Linked DNA regions of Homo sapiens: regions 1, 2 and 4 are each linked to region 3. The links come from fine-mapping of genetic effects on gene expression. A gene starts in region 3. Each other region holds a variant in brackets. All regions are shown on one strand. Distances are between the middles of the regions. Region 1 has its middle 13 kb from the start of SIRPB2. Region 2 overlaps SIRPB2 (signal regulatory protein beta 2). Region 3 holds the start of NSFL1C (NSFL1 cofactor). Region 4 overlaps NSFL1C (NSFL1 cofactor).

Region 1 (8,106 bases), 38 kb before region 3:
TTGTTTATTTGTGTGTTTGTCTGTTTTACCATATTCATTCTCTGTGCACAGAGACAGTGAGCTACTTGAATTTTTTCCCCAGAAGCCTCCAGACAACTCCCCTTCACATCTCAACATGTGTCCCAGCCTCAGGGGACTGGCTGCCATAACTGCCTTGGACCAATGATGATTCATCTCCTGGGGCTGGGGAAGGGCCTAGGTTTCCCTGAAACTGTTGCTGGGTGGAATGGCTATTCTGTTAGCAAGGCAGGAGGGACATTTGGCTGTGCAGAGGCCCAAACAAGGGTATCTTCCAAAATGGATGGTGAATTCAGTGAGCTATGGAAAACTGCACCCTCCTAGGATGCAAAGCCCTAGACATTTCCAGGCCTGTGAGGTGCTGAATTCATGCCAGAGAAGATTTTGGCTTCAAGAACCAGAACTTTGGGAGCTTCATCAAATATCCCCAAGGAAGAGCTTGTCATAGAGAGACTGCAGCAGGTAGTAGAACCGGCCAACTTCAAATGGGACTTTGTCCAGTTAGGCCTGGACAAAGAGCAATGGCCATAGTGACCCATAAAGACTGAGAACCAGAATTCATCTCCTTTGTCTTGGAAGGCAACAGCCCCGGTGCCCTGATCCAATCCAAGAGTGGAGTGGGGAGCTATGGAAAATAGCTGCTATTCACTTTCTCTCCAACCATGGTAGAGGCACATGCTCAAACTGGATTTCATAGGATTAAGAAAAAAAAATCTTAACATTACATGCTTATTACAAAGGAAAAAAGAATACAGTGGAAATGCCTGGAAGACATCACAAAGTAATCAAAGTGAACATGACTAGTAATGGGACCGATTGTGTGCCTTCTGATTGGAAGCAATGAGAACACAGCATCACTTCCAGATATTCCTGCCAAAGGTGCCAAAACCTGACTCTCATCATGAGGAAGTGTTAGAAAAATACAAAATTAGGGGCATTCTACACAATAACTGGCCTATACTTTTAAAAAGTGTCAGGGTCATAAAGTAAAGGAAAGGAGATTTTTTTTCTATATTAAGGAAAACTAGAGAGGTATGGCAACTAAATGTAACTGGATCCTTTCTCTATAAAAACATGTTATTGAAACAATTGGCAAAACTTGTAGGGAATCTAAAGATAAGATGGTAATAATGTGCCTATGTTAATTTCCTGATTTTGATGGTCTGGTGGTCATGCAGGAAAATGTTCTTATTTGTAGGAAATACGCACTGAGATATTCAGGGGTGTCTTAGTCCGTTTGGGCTGCTATAACAAAATGCCATTAGCTGGGTAATTTATAAACAACAAAAGCTCATTTCTCACATTTCTGGAGGCTAGGAAGTCCAGGGTCAAGGCACCAGCAGGTTCACCATCTGGTGAGGGTTTGCCCTCACTTCCAAGATGTCACCTTGCTCCCTGTCCTCACATGGCAGAGGGGATAAACGCTGTGTACTCACATGACAAAAGATGGCTGAGGAGCTCTCTTGAGCCTCTTTTCTAAGGGTACTAATCCCATTCATGAGGGTGGATTCCTCATGACTTAATCACTCCCCAAAGGCCCTACCTCTTACTACCATCACATTGGCTATTAGGTGCTAACATGTGGATTTGGGGAGATACCAACATCCAAGCCATAACCAGGGACGATAAGGCAATATGCCAGCAATTTATTCACAGATGTTTCTGAAAAGAGGCTCTTTATCCCACACTTGTAACTTTTCTACCAGATGAAGATTGTTTCCAAAAAAACTGTAATTAAGTAATATTCAGGTATTATGGAGCAATTCATATCTGCTGCAAAACAGATAGGTAGCTGACATACACTGAAAGCGTGCTGTGTGCCAGACTGTTCTGAGTACTTTCCGTGTTATAAACTGCGTTACTCTCATAACAACCAGATGAGGTATAACCTATACTTACCTTAATTTTGCAAATGAGAAAAAATGAGACACAAAATTTTATTGACTTGTCCAAGGTTGCACAGCTCCTAAGTGCCTGGCTGGAGTTTGAACCCAGGCAGTCTGGTTCAAACTCCCTTGTTCCTAACTACCACATACTCTCTTCTGATACTTTTGTCCAGTCCAATGGCCTTATATATCATTGAAATATAGCTCAAGGACTCAAATTTATTTCTCCAGCTGGGACTTCCCCCATGAATTTCATGTCCATCTGTCTACTCAACAGCTCCATTTGTCTGCCCAATAATATCTCAAAGCTTACATCCCAAAATCTGGCCTTCTGCTTATCCCCCAAAACTCTGCTCCACCCACAGACTCCCCCATTTCGGCTGATAAGAACTCCATCTCTCCAGCTGATGAGCCAAAAACCTAGGAGGTATGCTTGATTCCTCTCCTCTCTTATCCCGCTCCCTTTATGTCAGGAAATTACATTAGCTTTAAAATATATTCAGAATCTGACTATTTCTCACTATCCCCATTGCCAGATTTCACCCTTCATCCTCTCGTTCCTGGATTGCTGCCATTAGCCCCTCACTGGTCTCCCTATAGCCAGCATAGGAATCCTTTCAAACAAAGGCCAGATCATGTCCCACCTCTTCCCAAAACTTGCTACAGCTGCTCATCTCACTGCAAGTAAAGCCAAAGTTCTTACCTTGGCCCTCACAGCCCCTCACCACCTGCTTACCCCAACCCCCTTTCCCTGGTCTATATTTCTTTCCACAGGCCTTATCACTTTCTAAGATACTATATCATTTACTTATTTACTTTATTTATTATTGTGTATTGCCTGCCTCCCCAATTGGGATGTGTACTTCAGTTAATAAGGACAGTGAGTTTTGTCTGCCTTATTCACTGATGTATCCTAAGCACCAAGAATAGTTCTGGTACATAGCGCATGCTAATATTTGTTGAATGAATCAGTGACTACACCCTACAATCTCTCATATTGGGGTGAGAGCAGAAATGAAGAGAAGGATGAATAGACAGCAGGAGACAGAGGGGGAGAAAGAAGAGAGAGCCCCTAGGTCTAGGGCTGCAGAGAACATTCCTTAGTCCTGCCAGCTCTAATAGCTTGTCCCATGATCTGTGGCTAGAAGTTATCACAATATTTATGAAAATCACTCTTTGGGAAGGTAGCAATGAATACTGGATAGTAAGAAGGAGTTTGTGTGCTTGTTCTGGCCTCAAACCCAGGGCTGATCAATGTCTACCATTTCCCTGGCTCCTGAAAGATGCATTCTCTGATGTGGAGCATTGTCATGTGTCATTACCAGGTTCCAGGGAGGGAAAGTGAAGAAAGAGCTGCCCTTTGCTTCACCTCTTCTGAGTAACAGGGTTGAAATTCTCTATCTTCTCTCTGGCTCCAAGCACTCTCCTGCCCTGCCCCTCCCTTCTTAGGATAAATCCAGTTAACAGAGCCTGAGGCCCCAGGCACCATGACTGGCCACATCCAGTCCACCCACATCGGTGGCCCCTGGCCAACTTTACTGCCAACCCTACTTGTGGGATGCTCCTGTGTATAGGATAAAGCACACAGAACAAGGTGCTGGGAGGCTGAACCCAAAGGCTACTAACATGGCAGACCAAGA[C/T]GAGCGAGAAAGGAAAAGCCCATACAAAATAACAACAACCTTCCCCAATTTCTTTCCAAGTCAAGTTTACCCAAACTTGTTGAACAGTCTCCCTTTGTGTTCCTGTCCCTGTACCCAGTTTATTGAACAAGCTGGACTCAGTAGGGTTGAAGCAGAAAGCTGCTTCATTCTTCTTCACCACTGCCCTTTCAAATCTGCCAAATTATTCCTCCTAAGAGGCAGTAATGGTACCTATTATTCAGGTAATAAAAATTGCAATCTCTCATTCAATATGAGTGATGGTGGGCTTCTTGGCTATTTTCCACCTTGCTCTTCCATTCTTCTTTTCTCTCACTGCCACCTCTGGAGCAGAGGAAAGGGGAAACTAAGGACTAAGGCTGGGGTGATTTATGACTTGCCCATATTCTTGCCACCTCATCAGGCCAAGGGCAGGATTTAAACCCAGATCCCCCTGACCAGAAGCAGAGGTCTTTCTGCTCCACTGCAGCTATAACACATTTATCTCTCTTTCCCTCTCTATAACACACACTCGCCATAACACACGTATCTCTCTCCCTCTCTCTCTCTCTCTCTCTCTCTCTCACACACACACACACACACACACGGTGTGGGGAAGGCGTTTAGGTCCTTCCTAGCTAGACATTCTGCTGCCGAAATAATGATGCCTGAATATTTGGTGAGAACAAAAGCGCTGCATACATAGGCATGTCAAAAGGAAGCCTAAAAATATTTAACAGACACAAAAAATAGTCGGAATCCAGGTGTTCAGGCTGCTTTAGGGAGGTGTTGCTTCCCGGGATGTTGGGAGACTACCAGATAAATGCTCACGAAACAGCACAGCTCAGATCAATTACATCACGTAGAAAATCGGACAGAAGAGGACTTGCTTCCTTACTGATAAAAGACCTAAGACTAAGGCTGACCTTGACCAGGGTATACAACCAGGGTGATTGAAAGAAATCCCACTCCAAGTGGAGCCGGGCTACATAGGACCTGGGGTGGAAGATAGATCCAAGGAGCAAGACGGAGGGATCTAGCTCCAATTTCTAAGTCCTGGACAAGGGAAACCTGTGTCACTGTGTTGTACACTGGAAACTGCTCAGCTACGTTGAGTAGTGAAGTAAAAAATGAAGTATTAATTTAATGAAAGTACCCAGCATGGCCCTGAGAAAGTGCACTATTTTATTGGGAAAAAAAAAAAACTTTGTTAAATATTATAAGGTGCTCAGTAGCATTAATAATCATGCAAACTGGGAAGAAACCCCAACTCCTGACTTCTCTTTGGGAGGGGAAAGGAGTGGAACATTGATCCAATATTTTGACTTTTTGGGGTGCTGCCAAAGGACTAGTTTCCATCTTGCCTGAATTTAAATGCTGACGGGAATGAGGACCAGGTTTGAGGCCACTGAAAACGAAGATGATCAACATGACTTGGTCTAGCACCAAAATATGCAGTATCACAGATAAATAATAGGTGGAGCTATTAGTTTGTTCTAGCATCAGTCTGCAGTATCACAGACAGAAACTAGGTGGAACTTCAGTACCGTGGCTTACTGCAGCACCAGCCAGACCGCAGCATCATAGGCAGACACTAGAGGGAGCGCTTCAATAGAAAGACCTCTTCCGTTACGTGATTACACACTAAGTCCCAAAAGGGTGCATTCCCAGAGAAGGGTTGACAGGTCTCCAGATTCTCTAGCCAGGCTGATTGGAGAAAGTCCTCCCTGTAGAAAACCAGACCACAAAGACTGCACGGGGTAGCTGAGTTTTCAAATGCCAAAGTACCAAGAGAAGATAAGAAGACATATAAAGGGACAGGAAAACATGGCCTATTCAAAGAAACACATTACATCTCTAGAAACTGACCCCAAAAAAATACACGAATTATCTGACCAAAAAAATGCAAAATAATAATCATAAGAATTTTCAATGAATTAAAAGAGAGTACAGACAGACAACTAAATGAAATCAGGAAAACAATGGATGAACAAAAAGAAAATATCAAAAAAGAGATAGAAGCTATGAAGAAGAACCACACAGAAATTCTGGAACTGCAGAATACAATAACTAAATTTAAAAATCCACTAGAGGGGCTTAGGAACAGATGTTACCAAGAGAAGAAAGAATCAGCAAATTCAAAGACAGGAGTTTTGAAATTACTGAAGCAAAGGAGAAAAAAAGAACTAAGAAAAGTAAAAGGAGCATAAGAAACTTATGGGACACTATGTGTAACATTATGGAACAACCTACACACTATGAGAATCTAAGACAGACAAGAAAAAGAGAAGGCACCACAGAGACTTTTAAAAAAAATGATGGCTGGAAATTTTTCTAATCTGAGGGAAAAAGTAGACATACAAATTCAAAAAGCTCAACAAGCTCCAACCAGGACGAATCTAACAGCATTTACACTAAGACACAATTAAACTGTCAAAAATAGAAAAGAGGCTGAAGTGGGAGGATCACTTGAGCCCAGGAATTTGTGGCTACAGCAAGATGTGATCACGCCACTGCACTCCAGCCTGGGTGACAGAGGGAAACTTTGTTTTAAAAAAAAAATGACAAAGAGTGAATCTTGAAAGCAGCAAGAGAAAAGCAACTTGTCACATACAAAGGAGCTCCTATTAAATCATCAGCTAAAGTCTCAACAGAACCCTTGTAGGCTAGAAGGAGTGGGATGTGATGAGAGAAAAAATAACTGCCAACAAAGAATACTATATAGTACTAAACTGCCTTCAAAATGAAGGGGAAATGAAGACTTTCCTGGATAAACAAAACTGAGGGAATTCATCACCATTAGACCTGCCCTGAAAGAAGTGCTGAAAGGAATCCTTCAAGTTGAAATGAAAAGATGATGAATGGCAACACAAAGCCATACAAAAGTATAAATCTACCAGGTAAACATAAACATAGAGACAAATATAAAATCTGGAAGTATTGTAACATAGCTGTATAAATCACTTTTGAATTTGGTATAGAATTTTAAAAGCGAAAGCATGGGAAGTAACTAAAAATCTATGTTGATGAATACACAATATAAAAAGAGGTAATTTGTTTTGTTACAGTAACATAAAGAGGGCAGAGAAGTAAAGAAGTAGAGTTTTTATATGCAATTTAAGTTAAGTTGTTATCGGTTTAAAATATCTTGCTATAACTTTAAGTCTCTTTGTGTAGTTGCAATGGTGATGACAAATAAAATATGAATAGAATACCAATGCTCTTCAACTTATGATGGGATAACATAAGAATAAACCCATCAGAAGTCAAAAATATTGTAAGTCAAAATTGCATTTGATGCTGGCAACACAGCATACTGTCCCTGACTTATGTTCAACTTACAAATTTTCAACTCTACAATTATGCAAAATAATACACATTTAGTAGAAACCATAACCCCATTGTAAATCATAGGAACTTTTTATCTTATGCTGGGCTTACATTCAGGTACTGTCTGTATACACAAACAGAATTGAAAAGAGAATCAAAATATGTCAGTACAAAACATACAAGAAGGCAGCAAAGGAGAAAAGGAGCAAAAACCACTGGACAAGACATATTAAAATATATTGAATGTATTATCCATATATATAGACAAGTAACAAAACGAAAATAGTAAGTCCTTCCATGTCAGTAATTACTTTAAAGGCAAATAAATACCTCAGTTAAAAGAGATAAATGAGAAAACATAAAAACAACAGAGCAAGATGATGGAATAGAAGCCTCCAGCAATCATCTCCCCCAGGAAGGACACTAATTTAACAACTGTGTACACACAAATAAAAGAGCCTTCATAAGAACTAAAAATCAAATGAGCAGTTACAATACCTGGTTTTACTTCATATCACTGAAAGAGGCACCGAAGAGGTAGAAAAAAAGTCTTGAATAGCCAACACCACCCCTCTCCTAACCCCTGGCAGTGGCAGCATGGTGTGGAGAGCATTTCTGTGCACTGGGGAAAGGGAGATCACAGCAGTTGTGAAGCATTGAACTCAGTGCTGCCCTATTATAAAAGAAAACAAAATGGGACCAAACTCAGCTGTTACCCACCCAAAGAGGGAGCATTTAAACAGCCTTAGCCAGAGGGGAATTGCTAATCCAATCTCAGTGGTCTGAACTTCAGTTCCTGCAAGCCTTACCACTGTGGGCTAAAGTACTCTGGGGCTCTAAATAAACTTGAAAGGCAGTCTAGGCTCCAAGAGCTACAACTCCTAGGCAAGTTCTAGTGCTGAACTGGGCCCAGAGACAGTGGACTGAGGGAACATGCAACCTACTGAGACACAAGCCAGGGCAGCTAAGAAGGTGCTGGCATCACCCTTCCCCTAACCCCAGGCTGCACAGCTCACGAAAGAGGCCTCTTCCCTCCACTTGAGGAGAGGAGAGGGAAGAATGAGGAGGACTTTGTCTTGCATCTTGGATGTTGGGAATAATGCTCAAAATCCTAAGGAAATTGAACACTCAAACAAGGATTCTTAGCAAAGCAATTTTACTTCTGCACAGAGGGGTGCTTCTCCTTGGCCAGTCACCATGAGAGCACACTTGAACAAGAGCCTTTATTCCTGAAG
Region 2 (8,106 bases), 20 kb before region 3:
TAACCAGTTTAAGTAATTTCTTTCTGAGCCTCAGTTTTTCCAACTGTAAAATGGAGCTAAAAATAGGACCCACCTTGGGACTTTCTTAGGAGAATTTAACAAGATAATACCCATAAGTGCCTGGCATAACAAAGATTTGATAACTCTTGGCGATTATTATTATCATTCCCATGTTTCCTCTAACTCAGGGGCAGGCCAGGTTAGCTCCAGAGTCTTGAGACCCCTGAATATATAGCTCAGCCTCTGAGTCCAGAACTCTCTGATCTACCAGGCAGGGATACTTGGCTCTCAGTGGGCTCATTCCATCTCCTGCCCATCTGGGCCTCTGCTCCAGGCTCTACTGAGATCTAGATTCTGTCCATGACATCTTTGGTCCTCCGGGGTGGCCATCCCCAGGAGAGATCCTGGCAGAACCCAGGTGTGGGGTCGGACCTAGGTGCTCCCTTACTCATTGGCCGTATGACTCAAGACACCACTTCAATTCTCTAAGCTGATTTCCTCAATTCTAAGATGTGAATCATAATTGCTAGGTCTCATTCCACAGGTACTTTTGAGTGTCTGCTATGTTTTAGGCACTAGACTAGGAAATCAGAAATCTAAACTACTCAGAATAAAAAATATTCCCAATGATTGTTGCAATAGAATAGATGGAAAATAAGAGAAGTTGCTTAAACCAGTCAGTTGGAATGTTTGAGTCCAGCTGCATCTCAAGCTGAGTCAGGGCTGGTTCTTGGGTGTGCCCTCTATATAGTGGCACAGAGCCTCCTGCTTAGAAGGGCCCCATGCTTGGTTTAATGTTCTGCTGTGTTGCTCAATAGTTTTTGAACAAGGGACCTGCATTCCCGTTTTGCACTTGGCCTCACAAATTACGTAGCTGGCCCAGGATTGAGCCTCACCACTTCTCTATTTAATACTCACAGCAGCCCCGAGAAAAATATGAGTGCCCCTATTTTGCAGTAGAGGAGACTGGGGCTAACACATTTTCTATAAGGCTTTTAAAGGGAGCCCCATACAGGAACCATGAAAGGCAGAGGATGCAGATGGAAAATAGATGAGAAGGTCCAGCTCCACTGACAAGGCAGAGGCAAACCTCCTAGGACACCTCCTAAAGCCCAAGTGACAACACAGAAGGGGACTCAGAAGGGGAGAGGGAGGGAAGGGGTGTGGGCACCAGGACTGAGTCCAGGCTCCAGCTTCTTCCCTGGTGTTCACTTCCCCAGACTCACCCCTAGCTGAGATAAGACTTTCTGAGTGCTTCCTTCTTCCTCTCCTCCATTGCTTCTTTCTCCTCACACACGCAGGCTTCATCTTTACAAATAATTTATTTTTAACAGCTCTATTGAAGTGTAAGTGACATATATTAAACCGTACATATGTAAAGTACACAATTTGATAAGTTTTTTTTGTGAGTGCTGGGTGTATTTCACACTTGTGAAATCATCACCAAAATCAGCATCATGAACATATCCAGCGCCCAAAAGTTTCCTTGTGATTCGTCCTTGCCACTCCTCCTTGTCTCCAAAACAACCACGGATCTGTATTCTGTCACTATAGTTTGCATTTTCTAGAATTGTATATAATAAGGATCACACAGTTATACTCCTTTTTGGCTGGCTTCTTTTACTCCGCATAATTATTTTGAGATTCATTCATGTTGTTGCATATGTCAATAGTTCATTTCTTCTCATGTCTATCCATTGTATGGATAAACCCTTTCCCATTCACCTGTAGACAGACATTTGGGTTGTTTGCAGTTTAGGGCTATTATAAATAAAGCATCTATGAATATTCATGTACAAGTCTTTGTGTGGATATATACTTTCATTTCTCTTAGGGAAATATCTGAGAATAAAATGGATCATATGGTTGCCATACGTTTAACTTTTTCAGACACTGCCAAAGTGTTTTTCAAAGGAGTTGTACCATTTTACATTCTCATCAGCAATGTAGGAGGATGGCAGTTCCTACACCTCCTCACCAACACTTATTATGGTCAATCTTTTTAATTTTAGTCATTCTAATGGGTACATAGTAATATCTTACTGTGATTTTTTTTTTTTGAGACAGGGTCTCACTCTGTTGCCCAGGCTGGAGTGCAATGGCTTGATCTCAGCTCACTGCAACCTCCATCTCCCTGGCTCAAGCGATCCTCCCACCTTAGCCTACCAAATAACTGTGACTACAAGCGCACATCACTACACCCAGCTAATTTTTGTGGTTGTCTGGTTGGTTGGTTAGTTTTTTTGTTTTGGTAGAGACAAAATTTCACCATATTGCCCAGGCTGGTCTTGAACTCCTGGGATCCAGTGATCCGCCTGCCTCAGCCTCCCGAAGTCCTAGGATTACCAACCTCTCACTGTGATTTTAACTCCCTAATATGTAATGATGCTGAACATTTTTTACATCATGCATCCTTTTTGGTGAAGTGTCTATTCGACTCTCATTTTTTAAGTGTGTTTCTTATTATTGAGTTTTGAGAGTTCGTTATATATTATGGATACAAATATTTTGCCAGATATATGCTTTGCAAAGATTTTTCTCCTACTCTGTGACTTGTCTTTTTATTCTTTTACAAGTGTTTTCCGAACAGCAGGAGTTCTTAATTTTTATGAAGTCCAATTCATCAATTTGTCTTTAATGGATCATGATTTTGGTGTTACATCTAAGAAATCTTTGCCTAACCCAAAGTTACAAAGTTTTTTTCCATGTTTGCAGCTAGAAGTTGTATCGTTTAACATTTTATGTTTAGTTATATGATCTATTTTGAGTTAATTTTTATATAGTTTGAGATATAAACCAAAGTTCATTTGTTTGCACATGTATTTCCAATGGTTCTTGCACCATTGTTGAAAAAACTCCCCATTCTCCATTGAATTGTCTTTGCACCTTTGTCAAATATCAAATAATTATAGTTAGGAGCCATGGCATGCACCTGTACTCCTAGCTACTCAGGAGGATTGCTTGAGACTAGCAGTTTGAGGCTGCAGTGTGCTATGACGATCACACCCAAAATAGCACTGCACTCCAGCCTGGAAAACATAGCGAGACCTCATCTCTTTTTAAAAAATCAGTTGCCTCTATTTGCATGGACTATTTCTAGACTCTCTATTCAGTTCCACTGATATGTTTATCTATCTTTGTGCAATACCACATTGTCTTGATTACTGTAACATTATCTAAGTCTTGAAAGCAGGTGGTATTAGTTTTCTAACTTTATTCTTTTTCAAATGGTTTTGGCTATTCTATAAATTTTAGATTTAGTTTATCAATGCTAAAGTGAAGCCTGCTAGGATTTGAATGGGAATGGCATTGAGTTTATATATCAACTTGAGAAGAATTGACATCTAAGCAATATTGAATCTTCCAACATATGAACAGTGTGTACCTCTCTATTTATTTAGGCTTGATTTTTTTTATCTTAGCAATGGCTTATAC[A/G]TTTTCAGTTTGCAGTTCCTTTACATTTTTGGCTAAATATTTTCTATTTTTATAACATTGATGACTGGAAATTTTAAAATTCCAATTTCAAGTGGTTTATTGCTAGTGTATAGTAATACATATAATTTTGTACATTGATCTTTTATCGTCCACCTTGCTAAGCTCATTTATTAGGTCTAGTAGCCTTTTTAAGAAATTTTCATTTAAATTTTAATTATGTCATATGCACATAAAGACAGTTTTCTTTTTTCTTTCAAATCTGGATGTCTTTTATTTCCTACTACCTTTTTCACAGTTAGTACCTATCCTACAAAATTGAATAGAAATAGTAAAAACAGGCATCTTTGTCTAGTTCCTGATCTGCAGGGAAAACATTGATTTTTGCACCACTAAGCTTGATAGAGTTGTTGTAGGGTTTTCACAGGTGCCCCTTATCAACTTGAAAAACCTTCCTTGTCTTCCCAGTTTGCTGAGAGTTATTATTAGGAATGCATGTTCAAGTTTGAAAACTGCTTTTTCTGCATTCTGTTGAGATGATTATATGAGTGCATGTATATGCGTGTGTGTGTGTGTTAGTTTAGTAATATGGTAAATTACATTGATTGATTTTTGAATGTTAAACCAACTTTATATTCCAGGGATAAGCTCAATTTGATTATAATGTATTATACTTTCTAAATATTGCTGATTGCTGAATTCGGTTTACTAAAATTTTGTGTAAAATTTTTTATCTATGTTCATGAGAGATATTGATTTTCCTTTCTCGAAAGGAAAAGGCTTCGGTTTCAAGATAACACTGGGACTCATAGAATAATTAGAAAAGTATGCTCCTTTTTTCAATTTTCTAAAAGTATTTGTATAAAATTGGTATTATCTCTTTCTTAAAGATATGGAAAATTTGGCTGGGCATGGTGACTCATGCCTGCAATCCCAGCAGTTTTGGAGGCTGAGGCAGGCGAATCACTTGAGGCCAGGAGTTCAAGACCAGCCTGGCTAACATGGCGAAACCCTGCCTCTACCAAAAATATAAAAATTAGCCGGGCATGGTGGTGCATGCCTGTAATCTCAGCTACTCAGGAGGCTGAGGCAGGAGAATCGCTTGAACCTGGGAGGCAGAGGTTGGAGTGAGCTGAGATCACGCCACCATATTCCAGCCTGGGTGACAGAGTGAGGCCCTGTCTCAAAAAAAAAAAAAAGAAAAGAAAAGAAAAGAAAAAGATATGGAAAATTCACAAATGAAACTTTCTTGGATTGGACCTTTATTTCTGGGAAGATTTTTAATAACAGATTGAACTTTTTAATAGATAATAGGGCTAACCAGGTTGTCTTTTTCTTCTTGAGAAAGCTTTGGCAGTGTATCTTTTTCAAGGAATTTGTTCATGTTACCTAATTTGTCAAATATGTATGACTTGAAGTTTTCCATAATATTCTTTTATTATTCTATTAATAAGAGTAAAATCTGTAGTAGTATCACCAATCTTATTCCTTATTTTAATAATTTAGGTTCTTTCTGTGTGTGTCCCCTCTGTTCAATCTGACTAGAGATTTATCAGTTTTAGTGATCTTCTCAAAGATTTTCTTCTTCTCATTGATTTTTTCTGTGTGTGTGTGTGTGTGTGGTGTGTGTGTGTGTGTGTGTGTTCTACTGTATTAAGTTTCATTTCCAGCTTGATGATTTCCTTTCTTTCACTACTTTGAGTTTAGTTTATTGGCCTTTTTTTCTAGTTTCTTAAGGTGGAAAGTGGGTAATTTATTTGAGTCCTTTCTTCTTTCCAAATATAGGCATTTAATACTACAAACTTCCCCTTGCTTTAACAGAATCCCGCAAATTTTTATATTATGTTTTCATTTTCCTTCAGTTCAAAATATTTTCCAATTTTTCTTTTTTAATCGATACATAACATTTGTACATATTTATGGGGTTCATGTAATACTTTGTTCCATGCATAGGATGTGTAATAAATGAGTCAAAGTATTTAGGATATCCATCACCTCATGTATTTTTCATTTATCTGTGTTAGGAACATTTTAAGTCCTCTCTTCAAGCTATTTTGAAATCTACAATACATTGTTGTTAACTACAGTTACCATACTCTGATATCAAATGGCAGGATCTTATTCCTTCTATCTAACTGTATGTTTGTACCCATTAACAAATCTCTCTCATGCCCCTCTCCCTACACTCACTTTTCCCCACGTCTGGTATCATTCTACCCTCTGCTTTCATGAGATCAATTTTTTTAGCTTCCACGTATGAGTGAAAACATGTGATGTTTGTCTTTCTGTGCCTGGCTTATTTCACTTAACATAATGAACTCCATCTTCATTCATGTTGCTACGAATGACAGAATTTCATTTGTTTTTATAGCCAAATAGTATTCCATACTGGCCATCCAGTAGTGGTATTGCTGGGTGATATGGCATTTCTATTTTTAGTTTGTTGAGAAGTCTCCATACTGTTTTTCATAGTGGCTGTACTAATTTACATTCCCACCAACCATGTATAAAGTTTCCTTTTCTTTGCAACCTTACCAGCATATATTTGTGGTGGTTTGTTTATTTATTTTGTTTTTTTTTTTTATTGTTGCCTTTTTAACAGTCGTTCCAACTGGGGTAAGATGATATCTCATTGTGGTTTTGATTTGCATTTCCCCGATGATTAGTAATGTTGAGCATTTTTTCATGTGCCTGTTGGCCATTTGTATGTCTTCTTTTGAGAGATGTTGATTCATGTCCTTTGCCCACTTTTTAATGAGATTTTTTTTAACTGTTGAGTTGTTTGAGTTTCCTGTATATTTTGGATATTAGATTAGTCCCCTGTCAGGTGAGTACTTTGCAAATATTTTCTCTCATTCAAGAGTTTGTCTCTTCACTGTGTTGATAGTTGCTTTTGTTATGAAGAAGCTTTTTAGTTTAATATAGTCCCATTTGTCTATTTTTGTCTTAGTTGCCTGACCCTTTTGAGGTCTTAGTCATAAAATCTTTACCTATACCAGTGTCCTGGAGTCCCTTCCCTGTTTTCTCCTAGTAGTTTTTATAGTTTTAGGTCCTACAGTTAGATCTTTAATTCATCTTTAGTTGATTTTGGTATATGGTGAGAAATAGCAGTCTACCTTTATTCTTCTGCATATGGATATCCAGTTTTTCCAGCACCATTTATTGAATGTGTATTCTTGATACCTTTGCCAAAAATCAATTGGCTGTAAATACATGGATTTATTTCTGTGTTTTCTATTCTGTGCCATTGGTCTATTATACCATTGGTCTATGTATTCTATGCCCTTGGTCTATTATACCAATACACATCCCAATCAAGAAGAAATTTACAAAATCCCAGAAAAAGAACACAAAATATCGATACTAAGGAAGATCAGTAAGATACAAGATAATTCTGAAAAACAATACAAAGAAATCAGAAAACACTCCAAGACATTGCTCTAGGCAAAGGTTTTGTGGCTAAGACTTCGAAAGACAGGCAACAAAGGCAAAAAAAAGACAAATGGGACTATATTAAACTAAAAAGCTTCTGCACTGCAGAAAAATAATCAAAAGAGTGAAGAGACAACCTCCTGAATGAGAGATAATATTCACAAAGTACCCATTTGACAAGGGACTAATATCTGGAATATACAAGGAACTCAAACAATTCAACAGTTAAAAAAGCAAACAAACAAATAAATAATCTAATTAAAAATGAGCAAAGGAAAGGAATGAATAAACATTTCCCAAAGAAGACATACAAATGGCCTAGAGGTATATGAAAAAATATGCTCAACATCACTCATCAGGGAAATGCAAATCAAAACCATAATGAGATATCGTCTTATCCCAGTTAGAATGGCTATTGTTAAAAAGACCCAAAAAAAGGCCAGGTGCTGTGGCTCGTGCCTGTAATCCCAGCACTATGGGAGGCTGAGGTGGGCAGATCACCTGAGGTCAGGGGTTCGAGACCAGCCTGACCAACATGGTGAAATTCTGTCCCTACTAAAAATACAAACATTAGCCAAGTGTAGTGTCATGTGCCTGTAATCCCAGCTACTCAGGAGCCTGAGGCAGGAGAATCACTTGACCCCAGGAGGCGGAGGTTGCAGTGAGCTGAGATGGTGCCACTGCACTCGAGCCTGGGTGACAGAGCAAGACTCCCTCTCAAAAAAAAAAAAAAAATGATGAGGATGAGGAGAAAAGGGAACTCTTATACACTATTGGTGGGAATGTAAATTAGTACAGCCACTATGGAAAACAGTATGGAGATTTCTCAAAAATCTAAAAATAGAACTGCCATATGATCCAGCAATCCTAGAACAGGTATTTATCTACAGGAAAAGAAATCAATATATCAAAGGAGTGCATGCATTTCTACGTTTATTGCAGCAATATTCACAATTGCAAATGTATGGAATCAATCTAAGCGTCAATCAATGGATGAATTGATAAAAAAAATACATATATATAGTGTCCCCAAGCACACCCACAATGGAATACTATTCAACCGTGAAAAAAAAATAATGAAATCATGTAGTCATTCACAGCAACACGGATGGAACTGGAGATTATTATGTTAAGTGAAGTAAGCTGTACTCAGGAGGCTGAGGTGGGAGAACTGCTTGAACCTGGGAGGCGGAGGTTGCAGTGAGCCGAGATAGTGCCATTGCACTCCAAAAAGAAGGAAAG
Region 3 (8,106 bases):
ACAGCAAAGGTGAAGTAGCAGAGTTTATTGAAGAAAGATAAAGTACGTTCCTAGAAAGGAGTGGGCTGACCTGGCTGGAAAACAGCATCAGGCAAAAAACAGCAGTAGCAGTGTTTATTTAAAGAGACAGTACACTCTGAAAGAACGAGCCAGCAGCAGCTGGTGCTGGGGGACCCTCTTTATGAGAATCTTACATGATTATTCGTGCAGGGGCATGAGGGAGCGTCACTTACAATCATGTTTTAGGTGGTCCCCCTGGCTGTGAATGTTGTGTGTTTGTACGCGCTAGTAAACACATTGCCTGTCTCATTAGCATTTAAAATCTCCACTCAGGGGTGTGTTTTGTTGTTATTATTATTATTTTTTGAGACAGAGTCTCGCTCTGTCACCTAGGCTGGAGTGCAGTGGTGTGATCTCAGTTCACTGCAATCTCTGCCTTCCGGGTTCCAGCGATTCTCCTGCCTCAGCTTCCTGAGTAGCTGGGACTACAGGCACGCACCACCATGCCTGGCTAATTTTTGTATTTTTTTAGTAGAGACGGGGTTTCACCATATTGGCCAGGCTGATCTCAAATTCCTGACTTCGTCATCCGCCCACCTCGGCCACTCAAAGTGCTGGGATTACAGGCATGAGCCACTGTGCCCGGCTTGTTATTATAATGAGCAAAAGGCTACTGTAGGGCGAGTTACTGGAGGAGTGCACATGCTCGTCAGTGGGAAAGTCCCTACCATGGTTATCTCTGGGTAAGGCCTCATAAGTCCCCTTTAGGGCCAGAGGAGCCCAACCACAAGGCCAGAAGTTGCCAGTGTAGCCATTGTCTCTTTGCTGGCCGCCAGTGGGTGGCGCTGACTGTCAGTGAATGGAGTCTCCAGGACTTCTTTTCCCAAACGCTCCCTTGCCTGCTTATTTCTGGCTATCTGCCTACTCTAACAGTCAGACTTGTAAATGTTTTACCAGTTGGATAAGGCAAAAGGGAATCTCATTGCAGTTTTCATTGGTTCTCACTGCTGACTAATGCAACCAAGCATTAGTCACCGGCTGGCAGTACTGTTATTTTATTATTATTGTCATTAGTTGAAGATGTTGTGAAAAGAGAGACAAATAGTCCCAACTTTGCTGAGGCAGTGGTAGTGTTGTTATTATTATTATTATTTTTTTTTGAGACAGAGTCTCGCTCTGTCACCTTTTGTGAAGAAGAGTGGTAGAAGAAGGCAGTGCTGAGGCTGAGGTAGTAGAGAAGGGTGAGTGGTACCGGCAGCTTCCATGTATAGGGGCCTCTGGAAGGTCTGAATGTCAGCTGAGAAATCAATCATTTGCTCCACCTAGCAGCTCCCCTGGCCCCCTAAGCTATAGAGGGTTTAGCGCTTAGGGGACTGGAGTAGGGGGTCAGAGGAGACACCAGTCCTGGGTACACACAGCTCCTGCCCAAAGTGAAGTCACCACCAGTGAGGACACGGCAGAGGGGGTGCCAAAGGAAGGCTGGGGTGGGGCGGGAGGTGGTGGAAGATAGGATTAAAGGGAGGGGCTGGGGTGAGACTGGAGTGGGAAGGAAGATGGAGATGAGCCCGGAGGGGGCTGGGGGTGAAATGGAGTGAAAGTGGGCTTTGGAGGGTGGGGTGCATTTAGTACTGAGGGTGGAGTTAGAAGGGAAAGTGGGGCGGGGTGGGTCAGGTGCTGGTGGCGGATCTGTGAGGTAGAGGTGAGGCTGGAGGTGGTCGTGGTGGTAGAATTTGGGGATGGGGCTTGGGTGGGATGGGGCTGGAGGTTGGGGGCTGGTGTGGTTGGACATAGGAGAGTGGAGCTAAAGCTGAGCCTGCAGCACCTCCTTCTCTAGTTTTGTTAAGGACACTTAGATAAGTGTTATGTAAATGTAGTTTCAAGTTCATGCCCTCACATCCCCTGCCTTAAACTCCAGTTGGGTCATCTGGAGCTGCTTCCAGAAACCAGCCATAGGAAGTGACCAGCACAGTCCTGCAGTCTAAGGAGAGACAGTGTGGTGTAGCGGTTAGAAGCAGACTCAGGAGCTGTGCCATACCTGGATTCAAAACTCTTTAGAAGTCTAGGTTTCCCCATCTGCAAAATGGAAATGATAACAATAGAACTCACTTCATAGGGTGCATGAGTTAGTGTATCTAAGGCTCTTTGCAGAGTGTCTAGGGGCATAGTAAGTGCTCAGTAAACACTAGCTGCCAGGTAGTGTTATGGGAAAGGATGCCCTCAAGTCCTCTAGAAGAGGGATCAGGGACCCTCTGGCCGAACAAAGAGCTTTCCCTGATGGCACAAAAATGAAGAGGGGGGGTGACAATGAGTTTCAATGACTCCAATACCAGCCAGGGAACTGGACCTTGAGGAGCTGATCGCCTGCAGATCTTTAAGCTGGGGTTAGTCGTTGTCAGTTTCCAGGGTAGAAAGACCTTACTGGTTGCCAATCGTGAGGTCCAGAGTGAGCCTCTAGCTTCTTGGACTTCCTGGAAAGTTGGGGTGCATTTCGAGTTGACACAATGATGAAAGGGGTAAGTCCTAGGGACCGGGGCTGGTCCTGGGTGGCCTTGCAATAGAAAGGAGAGTCTCACACCACAAAGAAAGGACCCTCCTCCCATGCCTCCTGCCAGGGCCTATTGTGGCTGCAACCATGCTCCTAATAACCTAACCCAAGCCCTAACTCGTTTGTCATATAAACTTAAAGGATTTCTTGCACAGTGTTAATAAGACACCGAATTTTCCAGGAAAGCAACTATTGTGTCAATTGAGGGAAGACTGGACTTTGTGCTGTTCATAACCTGATTAAGAGGGGTTTTGACTAAGCCTGGGCACCTTCTCAAGGTCTCCTTGAGAAAGGGACACCTGAACTGAGAGCTGAAGAATGAGCAGGGGCCGACAGAGGAAGAGGAAGGGAAGAGTGTCCCACGGTGGTGTTGGAAATTAAAGCTCGAAGTCTCAAGGAAAACCAGCACTGAAATAAAAGATTTTTCAGCAAAGCCAATTTACTTCTGCAGAAGGGTGCCACTCACACATCTGGTCTTCAGGAAAGCACACCGAACAAAAGAGAGAAGGGGTTTTTATCCCTAATGCGGTTAGTCGCTGCTTCTGTGTCCTGTTCCCATTGGCTGGGGCTGGACTGCGCAATCTAAGCTAATCCCGATTGGCTAGTTCAAATGGAGCAGAAATGTGGGCTACAGTGGTAGGGCAAGCGGTTTCGGCAGGAAGAAGAGTTTCCGCGGGAATGGCAATTGTAGCGAGGGTATCCAAGGGAACAGATGTGAGTTATAGATTAGGACCCGCGGGAAGGTTGTTTACCGTAACTAGGGGTAAGGAGGTACAAAGAACAAGGAAGTTAGGCTTTGAAAATAGAGAACAAAGAACAAGTAAGCTGAACAAGTAAGTTCCTCTTTGGAGAGGCAAGAGGGCAAAGAAGCTGAGGACCCAGAAGACAGGATTGTGCCTAAGAAAGTGGCCTTGGAGCAGAGGCCCAAAGAAAGCGGGGAGAGCGCCTTGCCCATCGGTAAGGGAAAGGTGCTCCAGGCACAGAAGCAGCTAATGCAACGGCCCTGAGGCAAATGCAAGATAACTGGCAAGTTCCAGGAACAGCAAGGAGGGCAAGGCGCCTGGAGCAGAGGAAGCTAGCGGATCCCTTGATGAGAGGGAGGAACTGGCCCATCTCTCATGGGTCCTGCAGGCAGGCCATGAGACTGTCTTTTATGCGGGGCGAGATAACGAGGCATGGACGTGTTGTGAGCGGAGGCCTAGCCTGTTCAAGGTCTGAATTTTTACCCCTAGAATGTAAGAAGCATGGGAGCAGGGACTTTGTTTTGCTCCCTGCCATATCCACAGCCCTAGAAAAACGTCGGGCCATTGATAGCTCTCAGTAAATGCTTGACAAGTAAGTGAATGAACGAATGCACAATTAATGAAATGAGGGCTGCGTCAATGAATAACTGGGAATCTGACTCCTGCAGGGAGCCTTCAGCCCACAGGTGTATGTAAGACCCGCCCCGCCTCTCATCCTTCGGGCTCCCACCCCCGCCGTTAGGCTGCGGTTCGCGCCGCGGTCGCCAGAGGGCGCGGAGCGGCGGGGCTTCCCGCACGGAGGGCTTTGCGTGAGGCACCGCGTGGGGCGGGGCTGCGGGCGGGCTCCCAGCTGCTGGGCCCTCATCGGCTGGGCCTCGTCGACCGGCAAGCGGAACGCGGCAGCGGGGCTGGGCCTGTGCGGCGGCCGCCGGAGCGCTTTGGAAGGCGCACGGGGCGAAGATGGCGGCGGAGCGACAGGAGGCGCTGAGGGAGTTCGTGGCGGTGACGGGCGCCGAGGAGGACCGGGCCCGCTTCTTTCTCGAGTCGGCCGGCTGGGACTTGCAGGTAGCGCCGCGCGGCGGGCTGTGTCGGGTGGGCCGGGGACTGCTGGGAGCGGGCGCCTGGTGCCTTAAGCCCGCGGCGGCCGAAGCGCACAGTCATCCCCGCTCTACCGCGGCCCGACCCAGGCCTCATGGTCCCGGGACCGCTTGTCACGCGTCGCCTGCTCGGCTTGGGAGTGGGGGAACGCGGGCCAGCCCCAGCCAGTTCTGCCGTGCCAGTTTCACCCTGCCTCGCCCGCTTGCGGCGTCAGCGAGACTTCGGGCGCTGCGGCAGCCGGCGAGGAGAGGGAGCGCCTGGGGGCGTGGCTGCCGCGCCGAGTATCTGCTGGAGGCCGGGCTGGTCCGAGTGAGCAGCTCTTGGGTGAAGCCCCACTCGGGACTAGGTGGCCGCTCATTTCCACTTCCGAAGTCCAGCCCGGGAGTTGACCGCCGCCCAGCCTTCCTAATTGCTGGGAGAATACCTCTGGGGTGGTGGCGCAAGGTTGGAGCTTCTTCACCTTGCGTAGTTAACTTATCTGTAAAATGGGAGTCTCGTGGAAATTGCTGTGTAGTTCATTGGCACGTACTGAGTATTCACTAAATACTTGCTAAGAAGACTTAAGCTTCACGAGGCAGGGATTTTTGTACACTGATGAATTCCCAGTGCCTGGAACAATGCCTGGCACATAATAAGCATTCGGTAATTAACTGTAGAAAGAATTGCATAAATATTCTTGGCCAGCTTCGTCTTAGGTAGATGATGACGGTGATGACTAATATTTATTGAGTACCTACCATGAGCCAAGCGCTGTTCTGACTGCTTTACATGTCTTTTGTCATTTAACCTTCGCATTTTGCAGCTGAGATTAAAGAGGTTAAGTAACTTGCTCAAGGCCTCACTAGCTACCAGGCAGAAGAGGTAGAAGTGGAACCCAGTTCTGTCTGATTGCAAGCAGACAGAGCCCAAGCTTTAAACCACCATGTGCCAAGCACTTTACATAATATGATTCGTTGGATCCTAGCAACACTATGAGGTAAAGACTAGACCCATTTTATGGATGAGGAATTGGAAGCACAGAGGGCAAAGAATTTGCTCAGGGTCACATAGCCAGTAAGTAGCGGGGTTGGAATTTGAACTGAGTCTGCTGCCAAACGTAAATTACTCCCCAAACATAAGAATTCGGTAAAGCATCACACCTAGATCACACCTAGACACAATGGGAAGCCCCTATGCTGGGCAGAAATAAAAAGTTTCTACCTGAAAGACCTAAAAGCACACAGTGTTGTGACCAACAGATCTTCTGTCTCGTTCCCCTCACATTGTAGTGGGGAAACTGAGGATCATGCATGTGACTTGCCTGGCAGGAACAGGACTTGAATGTAGGCTCCCTGAGAATGCCAGTTCACTACATGGCCTGAGACAGCACACTGCCTCCCAGCAGATTACTTTTATCCCTTGACAGCTCACTGTCTCCTGTGAAGTTGGTGACCCTGAGGACAGAGGCCATGTCTATTTCATCTCTGTGACCTCAATGCTTTCTTGTGTTTGTGCAAAGCAAGTGATTAGTGAATGCCTGTCCGTTGAGTTGGTGACAGAGATGTCACAAATGACCAAAGGATTCCCATATTCCTTCTGTATGTGTAAACCTAAGATGCGAGTATGCATAAATCTTAATGGATTATCTCATCCAGTGTGCAGGTTGGTGAGACAGGTACCCCCATTTCACAGATTAGGAAACAACTTGAAAGAAAGGAAAAGTAGCAACCTGGACTGACTCCACAGTTCCTGACTCCGGGCTGTACTGGAAGCGCTTAAGAGTGAGGGCCTAAGCACACTAGCAGGGATGGAACCTGGCTCCTCTCTTTACCAGTTGTGTAAACTTGAACAAATTTTTTTTTAATCCTCAGTGCTTCTGTATCAACTATAAAATGAGATGATAAGAGTACTAATAGCATAGAGTTCTTGAGGATTAAACAAATTAACGTATGTAGAATGCTCAGAACAACCTGGCATGTAAATGCTCACTAAATGTGTGCTACTTTTACTAGATCACGTTTCTTCATAAAATGAGAATAAAGAGTGTCTTCCACCCCAGCCATTCTTACTGCCTTCTTTTCACCTTAGTGGGTGGAATTTGTTTCAGTTGACACGAAGACTAACAGCTGAGCTGTTAACCTTCTGGTCTAATTTTCTTTGGCCCATGGATGCAAGCTACCTTGTAAGTGTTGGCCATGTCTGTATTCCTTTGTGCTCAAAGGAGATGTGCGTTAGGTGAAGGCCTGTTTAAGGGTCCCAAGGTACTACCTCTCTGTTTCAGATCGCGCTAGCGAGCTTTTATGAGGACGGAGGGGATGAAGACATTGTGACCATTTCGCAGGCAACCCCCAGTTCAGTGTCCAGAGGCACAGCCCCCAGGTAAGGGCCAGCTTCAATTATCGCTACATGAGTGTTTCCAGCAGTGAAGAGGAGCTATTTTCTGACCAGAGCGTTCAGGCCTGGGTGTGTGGACCAGGTCTGAATGAGAAGGTTAGACTGAGTCAATGGGTAGTACTTCCCAGCAGGCCTCAGTCATTTCCTATACAGAGATGCATGACTTTTAACTGGGTGTGGTTTATGGTTCAATCCTGGGGGAAACCACAAACCTACTTTTAAGACTTTTACTTATGTAGTATGAGGAATGACCACTGCAACTCTAAAGTTTTTAAGTAAAAGCCAAAAAACTTCCTTTCAAGGGTGCTATAGATGTGAAAGTTTAGGCGAAATGACTTAGGAAAGCTGTTTTGATATTTTAGGATGCCCGTTACCTTATTAAGAAGTCTTGTACAAAATAAACCTGTGTAACCCACCCTTTGCCAAGTTGATTAGGGAGACCTTGTCTTACTAGGTAAAACAGTGTTAACCTTTGCAATCCCATTTGCATCCCCTGTCGCTGCCTCCCACAGCACCCACAGCAGATTACTCCTGTGCTCTGCAGAGTGAGACAATGCTGGTCTTCCAGGAGACAGGCAGGGGTGCTTCCTGTAAAGGTGTCTGAACCTTTACAGAGAGTGTGTAAGCAGAGGTGTCTCCCCTCTCTGCTTTCGCCTTATTGCTTCTACTCTCTAGTGTATGTTTTAGCCAGGAAATTTTATTTGGGTTTGAATTCAACCCCAGAATATAACCAACAGTGTTTCTTTGCCATGAAGTGGTAAATTATGTTTCTCTCTAAAGGCAACTGAGGTTTAAAATATATTTCCTCCCTTCGAAGAAGGAGCACTAACCCCAGATCTCATTGCTTTCTTCTTTCCCTAACTCCCATCCAGAGAAAAGAGGTAGGAGGAAAGTGATCTTGTAACTGTTTGCACGTGCTAACCTATGAGATGTTGGTGATGGCACATCTGGGTATTACTGCTTGGGACATGTTGTTAGGGTAAGTGCTGTTCTTGCAGCTGCTAGTAGAGATGGCTGATTTTCTGGGGTATGAGTCTTTGACAGCCACCTTAGGGTGTTGTTGGGATGTTGGCATGTCAGAATTATAGAGGGGGAGAGATTTAAACTTAGTCTCTAATGCCAGTTACATGTTTACTCCTTTCTTTTCTCCAGTAATCCCAAAGTTCTATTAAGGCAGTGGTTTATTAGCATGGGCCCAGGAGCCTGACTGCGTTGGTTCAAATCCCAGCTCTGCCACTTAAGTAAAAGCTTTGTGACCTTGGGCAGGTTACTTAACGTTTCAGTTCCTCATTTTCCTCGCCTGTCAAATGGTAATGATAGTGCCTACCACATGGGAGACTGAATGAG
Region 4 (8,106 bases), 26 kb after region 3:
GGGGTTTGGGGCAAAAAGGAAACTTATGTTTAAGTGCTCTAGGGAAGGAGGCATTGTTTCCAGGTGGTTTCATTGTCATATGATCTCCAGGTTCAGAAGGCAGGTAGTGTCTGGAGAAACGATTCCTGGCCCTGAGAAGTTGACCATTAATTTCTGACAGATAGTTTAAGTGCCTCCTGTGATATACAAAAGAGACACACACTGTCCTTGTGAAATTCATGAGCTGCAGGAGGAGACACTAATCAGATCATCCCAGAAACGTGGAAGGAGGGCCAGGGATGGAGCCAAGGAGCTAAGGAGGGCTTTCCTGAGGAGGTGGCATTGGATCCGAGGCCTGAGTTGTGATTAGGATTACAGAAAGGGGATCAGGCAGGGGAGCCTCTGGAAAGAAGGACCCAAATGTGGGAAGAGAGTATGGCCTGATGAACTAGAAGCGGGCAGAAGAGAACGAGGGGAAAGAGGGTGGTATAAAATTAGGTCCTTGGGAACACAGTAGGGTTGTTGGTGTTTATCTCAAGGAAAATGGAAACAACAGTGAAGGACTCTTGGCAAGGAAGGGACTTGGTCCCACATGCCTGAGCGTAGCTTTCGCTGTTCTGTGGAGAAAGTCAGGAAAGGGGATTTGCGAGGTGTTTAGCTTTCCACAGGGCAGGGGTATGGACAGCAGAGGATGGCACTGCTCACCGCTTCCCCAACTCCTGCAGGATCAGCGACATCCGACTCTTCATCGTGGATGCCCGGCCAGCCATGGCTGCCACCAGCTTTATCCTCATGACTACTTTCCCGAACAAAGAGCTGGCTGATGAGAGCCAGACCCTGAAGGAAGCCAACCTGCTCAATGCTGTCATCGTGCAGCGGTTAACATAACCGCCCAGCCAGCTGCCTGGCCTCCCTCCTGTGTTTCCCATGGCCAGTGGCCATGCCCCATGGGGATCGCCCCTCCTGCCCCCTTGTGCACACCCAGCAGTCCAGTGCAACGTCTCCTCCATAGCTCTGGGTTCTTAGATCTTGGTTGGACGTTTGTTTTCTCCTTAGTTGCATTTCCTGGGTTTTTGTGATGATCAATGGACTTTAATGAAAAAAAAAATAAAAACAACCAAAAAAATTGAAGGAATATCACCAGCATGTTGTACGGAAACTCTCCCACTGAAGCAGGCTTTAATTGCTTTAAAATTATATTTATCTTGGGGCCTGTGGGAGGAAACTTCCTTCCATCTTCTCTGCATAAAAACTTGTGGCACACAATGCTTATTCACTAGTGTGTCCCACCCGCCAGCCCCACAGATGACTGGAGGAAGGAGGGGAAATGTGTAGAAAGAGGCTTCGCCACCACTTGTTCCCACGAGAATATGTCACTTGCCCAGATAAAACTGGGCGGCAGCCAGAGTTCCCTGAAGTGGGAAGTCAGAGCTCCATGCACACAGTGTCTTCAGAAGGTGAAAATAAATATTTCCCTGTGCTCCTTTTACTCAACCCCTGGGGTATCTAATCTTGCCAGGTCTTGGCCAGTTGAGATTCTGTTCCACCTGCCTGCCTGGCCCTTTCCTCCATTACCATCCAGACTGCTCGCCTCCTGGGGATTCTCAGGGGCTCCATTATGGCTTGATTTACTCCACGTGCAGAAGTCTTGAGTGGACCTAGGAGGTAGGTGGGATATTTTTTTTCACTAGGATACAGCTCATGCCAACCCATCCTAAGTGAGTTCAGAATCAGGGTATCTTGCCCTATAAGATAAACAGTCAAAATGCCACCGAGCTGTTCACTAGTGATGTGTGGCAAATCAAATCAACTGTTGAAGAAGGGGTGAGTTTTCTGTGCTACAAGCACCTGTCACTGTTGGTACTTGCAGGAGGCTTCTGCTGGGTATGTTTTGGAAGTGAGTGTCACTACTTGGCTTTGCTTAGCAGGTTCTGCTTCACACTTGTTCTTTGACCTGCTGACTTGTGACTTGCAGAAACATAGGCAGTAGTCCTAGCCTGGTAAAGACCCTCCACCACCCCTATAAGTTTGATTGCTATGCAGGTTTGGGAGAGGAGGCCTATTGGGCTCTTGGATGGAACCCTTTCCCGTATTAAACAAACCAGAGACAGAATCAGTGCTGACTCAGGATCTCCTGGTTTGGAATCGTAATGTGCCTCAATCCTCTTTCCAAGCAGGCCTCACCAGTCTCTTTCTCTTTCCTGCTTCACCCCTGCAATGAGCCAAGAACCAACACTACATCCACCTAGAACTGCAGAAGGGCTTGTGGTTTCAACCAAGACCCATCCTGAGCAAGGGACTTGGCTTGGTGCTTTTGATCCCAAAGTTCCCACACCGGCAGTGGCCTGCTGGGGCAATGGCATCTGTCACGGTGTTTTCTCCAGCAGGTGGAGATTATGGAACCTACATATGGGTCTGGAAAAACTGTACACTGTTGTCACCTTGACCATTAAAAACCAGAATGAGGACAATGGAGTTTTGTACTTTCTAATGGGTTGCTTTGACGGAAACTACAGCAGCCAGCAGAAGTACTTAAGTGCTTCACAAAGGTCCCACTTTACAGTGCAAAACCTTGAGCCCCAGTCACACTGCTAGTAAGTGGTAAGGTACTGCCTCTTCCCATCCAGAGCCCACGTTCAGCCACCATGGAGTGCAGTATACACTCCATCCCTAACTGCCAGGCCCATATACATACACTTGACCTCCCCCTACCTCCTTCTCACAGTGTCTGCTTAATTAATTAGTATATTGCAGAAGAGATTGTAAAAACACCCACTTAAAACCTGTATCATCTACGGTAGTTTGCACAGGGCCCCCAGCACCTCTGGGAAGTAAGCGAGGCAGGTGATCTAACTCTTACCTATATTGTTGATGCAGCCACCACAGTTGAGAGACAGTCCCTCTGACCTTGGACCAGGGATCACACTGGTCTGGTTCCAGGCTGGGGAAGGATGTTCCCAGCCCTAGTTTTCTGTTTTGGGCAGTCCAGATGGAAAGGCCCATCCACCCAGATAGGTTTTCACAGGTTTAGAAGAAAAAGGATACTCAGCCACTGGTTCCGGGGCTTCTGAATTCAGTTCTCAACTGGGGCATTTTGGATCTCCCCAAAAACTGGTTGGTAAGAGAACCTCCTGGCATTAAATGGGCCAGGACAAGGATGCATGTCAGTTCATTGGATATGCCTTGATAGATACCCAAAACTCATCAAAATGAAAAATAGGCAAAGTAATTGTCATGATGCCCTTTCTAAAAGTGCAGTTTTAACTAGTCTTTGCTGTGGGATGTGGGTTGTTTGATCTTGTTAACA[A/G]TCATGCCCAGCAACCCTGTAGGTAGAGTCTTGCACAGATCCGGCTGCTTCCTCAGTAGAAGGCCAGGGAAGAAGCAGGCATGTGGTCAAGAGCTAGGCATGGCTTTAATGGCGTTCCAAAGTGTCTTCCAGAGGGGCAGCGGCCCTTTTCATACCCATCCATAGGACAAAGCATGCCCTTCCCTGCCAGGAGCTTAAAGATGACTTAGAGCTCATTCAGGGGAAGCAGCTGGTACAGAAATAAGGGTTCCCTGCTGCTCCCTGTCTCCTAACTCCCAGCATTTCAGAGAGAACTGCCAACTCCTGATTCCCAGGCCCAAATAAAAGGCCTTCCTTCTTTAAATGGGCGTTGGGCTCCTGTGTTGAGGGTGTGTGGCTGGGGATCCCAGTCCCCCTCTTCCAGGCCACACTCTTCCCAGGCCAGGACAGGGAAGCAGAGTAGAAAACACTTTTTGACTTGTAGCATCTGACCCAGGTCCCAGTCTGAGCTCCTGCACTGTGACTGTGCCTCTCTGTTTCGGTGGCCTCATCTCATGCCATGTCCAGTCCATCAGCAATCCTCTGGGTGCCCCTGGTCACCCCTCCCCTACGATCATCTGGGCCAGCCTCCGTAGTCACTCACCTATGACTGCAGAATCTCATCAGTCCCCCAGCTTCTGCCCTTGCCCCACCCAGGCAAAGGGCTTCTTTGGCACCATTAACCACAGCCTGCCACTCCCATCCTTTAACGTCCTTGGGAGCTTTCCATTACCCCTGGAAACTTCTAAGACCTGCAGAGCCCCATAGGCCCTGGCCCCTTCCCACCACCCTCCATCCCTTTGACCTGCTTCATTTTTCTTCTCTCTGCTCCATCTAATATGTACTCTATTTATTAACGTGCTTGTTTCCTTGGTCCCCCCACTAGCTTATAAACTCCATGAGGGCAGAAATGCCTGTTCCTCACTCTTGTATCCGGAGCAGGTGGCATGGTGTCTGACGCATAGTAGATCCTCAACAAGTGCGTGCTTGGATGAACCTGTGAAATGGAGACCAGACCTTATCTAAAAGGATGGAAGGCAAGAAGGCTTTTAAAGCACCCCCATGTGGTGCCTGCTTGGGAACTGCAGTCCCTCCTCCCAAAGCAGGTTCTCAGCCATGAGGGGGCGTCCTAAAGGGCACCTAGAGCCACAGGGTGTTCCTGCAACAGGTGCTAAGAAGATGTGTCTGGGGTAGGAAGCGGGTGTGACAGGAATGTCCCCAGTCCCTTCTTGCCCTGTCTCAGCTGGACCAAGAGGTTTATTAAGGGCCAGTTACCCTCCGTGTTGAGCAACTGAGAACCTCAATGCCAGGACTAGGACTTGCTACTACTAATCGTAATAGCAGCTGCCATCATTTGAGCACTCACTTTGTGCCAGGCCGTTTGTGCCTTAACAACCCAAGGGTACCATGGTTAGCCCACTATGGAAGAAGTTACTGAGGCTTAGAGCGGTGATGGGACTTGCCTGAAGCCACACACGGAGTAAGAGGCATTTGAATCCCCAACTACCTGAACGCAGAGCCACAGCCCTTGACCCCGAGGCTCTACTGCTGTGAAAAAGGCAGGCACAAAGGCAGTGGCAGGAGGGACGATTGGGTCGGGCAGGGAGGGACAGGGAAAACGGAAGCGGACACCCTTGAACTGGGTTGTGAAGGGTGATTAAAGGTTGGTTCTCTGACGAAAAGGCAAAAAAGTTGTCCTTCCTCAAGAGACAAACTCAGAGGGCATGTGGAGGCTTGGGGCAGGCTTTGAACTTAGGTTCCATCTTATACCAGGCATGACCTTAGACAAGTCACCTAAGCTTCTCTGAGCCTTGGCTTCCTCATTCAGAAAACAGGGATAATGGTAGTTCCTACCTCTTAGACTATGGGGATTAAAGATGTCTGTGAAGCCCTTGACGCATAGGAGGAACTTTATGAATGACAATAGGTGCTGCTGTGTAGCCCTTACCATGTGCCGGGCGCTGTCAAACACTTGAGCATGATCTCATTAATTCTCAACACTCCTGTGAAACAGGTGCTTTTATTATTCACATCTTTACAGAGAATGAAATTGAGTGCCTTGCACGTGGTAGACAACCTGGCCATTAAACGTCTATTGGTTAAATGATCGGAGAATCAGAGAGGAGAAAGCAGTCAAGGACACACTACTAATAAATGACAACTGAGTTTGAACCAAGGGCCATCTAACTCCATCCTCCTGGCCTGGCCTCTGTACCATGAGCTTATTTTAAGTCAGCTCTGGGTGAACCACCTGCAGCAGGAAAAGCTCAGGCTTAGGAGTCAGCCTGCTGGGTACTAGCTGTGTGGCCTCGGCAGGTTCCTTAGTTTGATCATCCATGTGACAATATACTAAGATGGAATTATTTCCATCCCAATTTGGCTGGGTTCCCAAGGCAATAGGGGGCCTAGCTACTCCACCTCCCAGGATGAATTGCTGTCCACACACAGGGCTTTCAAAGACATGGTCAAAAACTAGCTGTGTGTCTCCTTGCCTCTTTCCCACACCAAAGACGTTAAAGGTTCAAGTTGGAGCTCTGAGAAGAGTTTTCTTTAAAGGAAGTTACTGGAGGGCTTTGAGTGCACAGGGGAAGGGGGAGCTTTCCTTCTCCCTCAGCCTAGGGATTGGTGTCTCAAGGAGACCACTCAAGAGCTTGGAGATGACGAAGGTGCCAGGCACCCACCTCACACCTGAGCAATCTTGAAAGCAAGAGGCTGATGAAGCAAAGAGAACTTGGTGTGAAGGAGCTTGTGCTATAAGTCCCATCAGCCAAATGTGGACCCATGAGGCAGCCAGACTGGACTGTCCTGGGTCTTGCTCTGGAAGGACAGAGGGACCTTAGTGCAAGATAGACCTTGGGTTGCAGGACTGAGGGAGGAGTTACAAGCAGCCAGCTAGAGAATCTATTGGCTTCCTCAAGGGAAGTGAACCAAGATCTGAAGAACCAACAAGTGCACCCTAGAGGGAAGCCCAGAGCATCTGCACCGGCCACAGGAAACCAGCAGGCCCTTCCCCATGTCCCCTGCGACCCTGCCCCTGAGAGAGGGAAGAAGCTGTACTTCTAAATGAAGTTCAAAATCTTGACTATGACCTGGGAATGGCCTTTTTAAAAAAAATTACTTTTAAATAGGTAATATATTTACATGGTGCCAAAAAATGTCTTAGATACCTCCCTTCTTATCCATGCCATTTGCCCAATTTCCCCTCCCTCCCTCCCTCCCCACTATAAGTTTCTTAGTTGTCCTTGCAGAGTTCCTAAATACAAGCCGATACTCTCTGTCTATTCTGAGGCATCCATTGTTTCCCATATTTTAGCAACTCTGAAATCAGAATGCATCATACAAGAAGGCAGTCCTGGTGTCACCTAATACCTTAACATATTTATTTTGTCTATATGTTTCCTTTTTATTTGTGCCCAAAGTTGATATGATATAAATTCATGTCTAAATAAGTCTAAATGAGTTCTCAAATATAAAATTCTAAGCATTGTGCCAATTTAATCAGCAATGGTCTTTCTTAGTGGCATATAAATTAATGGTGGCTTTGTCACTCCTGGCATCTTAGATCCAATAGATCTGCAGCGATTCTTATTCACAAGTGTGTCAGCCTGCCCACCACTATCTACATCTTTTTCCATTTAACAGTAGATTTTGGAGGTCATTTGTTGTGAAGGACATGTGGGTGTCTCCTGGGTTTTGCTGTTACAAACAGTACTACAGTGGCAAAGCTTGTATATGCAAATGTGTAAAGAGTAAATTCCCAGATGTGTAAGTGCTATTTACTCTTGCACCCGCAGTGGACTTGAGAGCCTGTTTTCCCACAGATTCGCCAGCAGGGTGCGCTGTGAGCATTTGCCTGTCAGGTAAGTGAGCAGTGGATTCACAGTGTGGTTTTGTTTGCATTAATACCAGTTGTTGTTGTTGTTGTTTTGTTGTTGTTGTTGTTGTTGTTTGAGACAGAGTCTCACTCTGTTGCACAGGCTGGAGGGCAGTGGTGCGATCTTGGCTCACTGCAACCTCTGCCTCCTGGACTCAAGAGATTCTTCTGCCTCAGCCTCCCAAGTAGCTAAGATTACAAGCACGCACCACCACGCCCAGCTAATTTTTGTATTTTTAATAGAGAGGGGGTTTCACCATGTTGGCCAGCCTGGTCTCAAAGTCCTGACCTCAGGTAGTCCACCCGCCTCAGCCCCCCAAAGTGCTGAAATTACAGGCATGAGCAACCGCGCCCAGCCCATGAATACTATTTATTGAGTATTTTTCTGTACCACATTATTAACTACATATTTCTCATGAATCATCCCATTTAATCCTCAGGCAAGCCCTATAAGACAGGTACCATTTTTAATTCTATTTTAGATATGAGGGTGAGAGAGGTTAAGCAACATGCCTATTCCACCTAGCCAGCATGTGCAAGTCCACAATTTTATGATAAATTTACCTTAGTTTTTTCTTTTTTTTTTTTTTTTTTTTTTGAGACGGAGTCTTATTCTGTCACCCAGGCTGGAGTGCAGTGTCATGATCTCAGCTCACTGCAACCTCCATCTCCCAGGTTCAGGCAGTTCTCCAGCCTCAGCCTCCTGAGTAGTTGGGATTACAGGCATGTGCCACCACACCCAGCTGATTTTTGTATTTTTTAGTAGAGATGGGGTTTTGCCATGTTGCCCAAGCTAGTCTCAAACTCCCGACCTCAGGTGATCCGCCCACCTCGGCCTCCCAGAGTGCCGGGATTACAGGTGTGAGCCACCGTGCCTGGCGATAAATTTGACCTTAGTATGTTTATTTCGGAGCTTGTACTCTTAATC

The links.
Region 1: its variant is fine-mapped to the expression of NSFL1C in whole blood (INTERVAL, PIP 0.97).
Region 2: its variant is fine-mapped to the expression of NSFL1C in whole blood (TOPMed, PIP above 0.99).
Region 4: its variant is fine-mapped to the expression of NSFL1C in whole blood (TOPMed, PIP above 0.99).

Annotation. Positions count from the first base shown.
Region 1 is chr20:1,500,819-1,508,924 of GRCh38, reverse strand. No RefSeq gene overlaps it. Among named protein-coding and RNA genes, the nearest start is that of SIRPB2, 13 kb to the right of the region's middle. RefSeq lists an enhancer at 7,794-8,106. The variant C/T (reference allele first, on the strand shown) is at 3,545.
Region 2 is chr20:1,482,602-1,490,707 of GRCh38, reverse strand. The region is part of intron 1 of SIRPB2 (signal regulatory protein beta 2); the gene reads left to right. Among named protein-coding and RNA genes, the nearest start is that of SIRPB2, 4.8 kb to the left of the region's middle. The variant A/G (reference allele first, on the strand shown) is at 3,436.
Region 3 is chr20:1,462,967-1,471,072 of GRCh38, reverse strand. It overlaps NSFL1C (NSFL1 cofactor), which reads left to right and starts at 4,224. Exons shown (of 9, transcript NM_016143.5): 1 at 4,224-4,353; 2 at 6,647-6,744. The coding sequence starts at 4,249. It also overlaps a transcript of SIRPB2 not described here. RefSeq lists a silencer at 3,930-4,199 and an enhancer at 4,494-4,995.
Region 4 is chr20:1,436,510-1,444,615 of GRCh38, reverse strand. NSFL1C (NSFL1 cofactor) reads left to right here. Exons shown (of 9, transcript NM_016143.5): 9 at 705-2,450. The coding sequence ends at 867. Among named protein-coding and RNA genes, the nearest start is that of NSFL1C, 26 kb to the left of the region's middle. The variant A/G (reference allele first, on the strand shown) is at 3,287.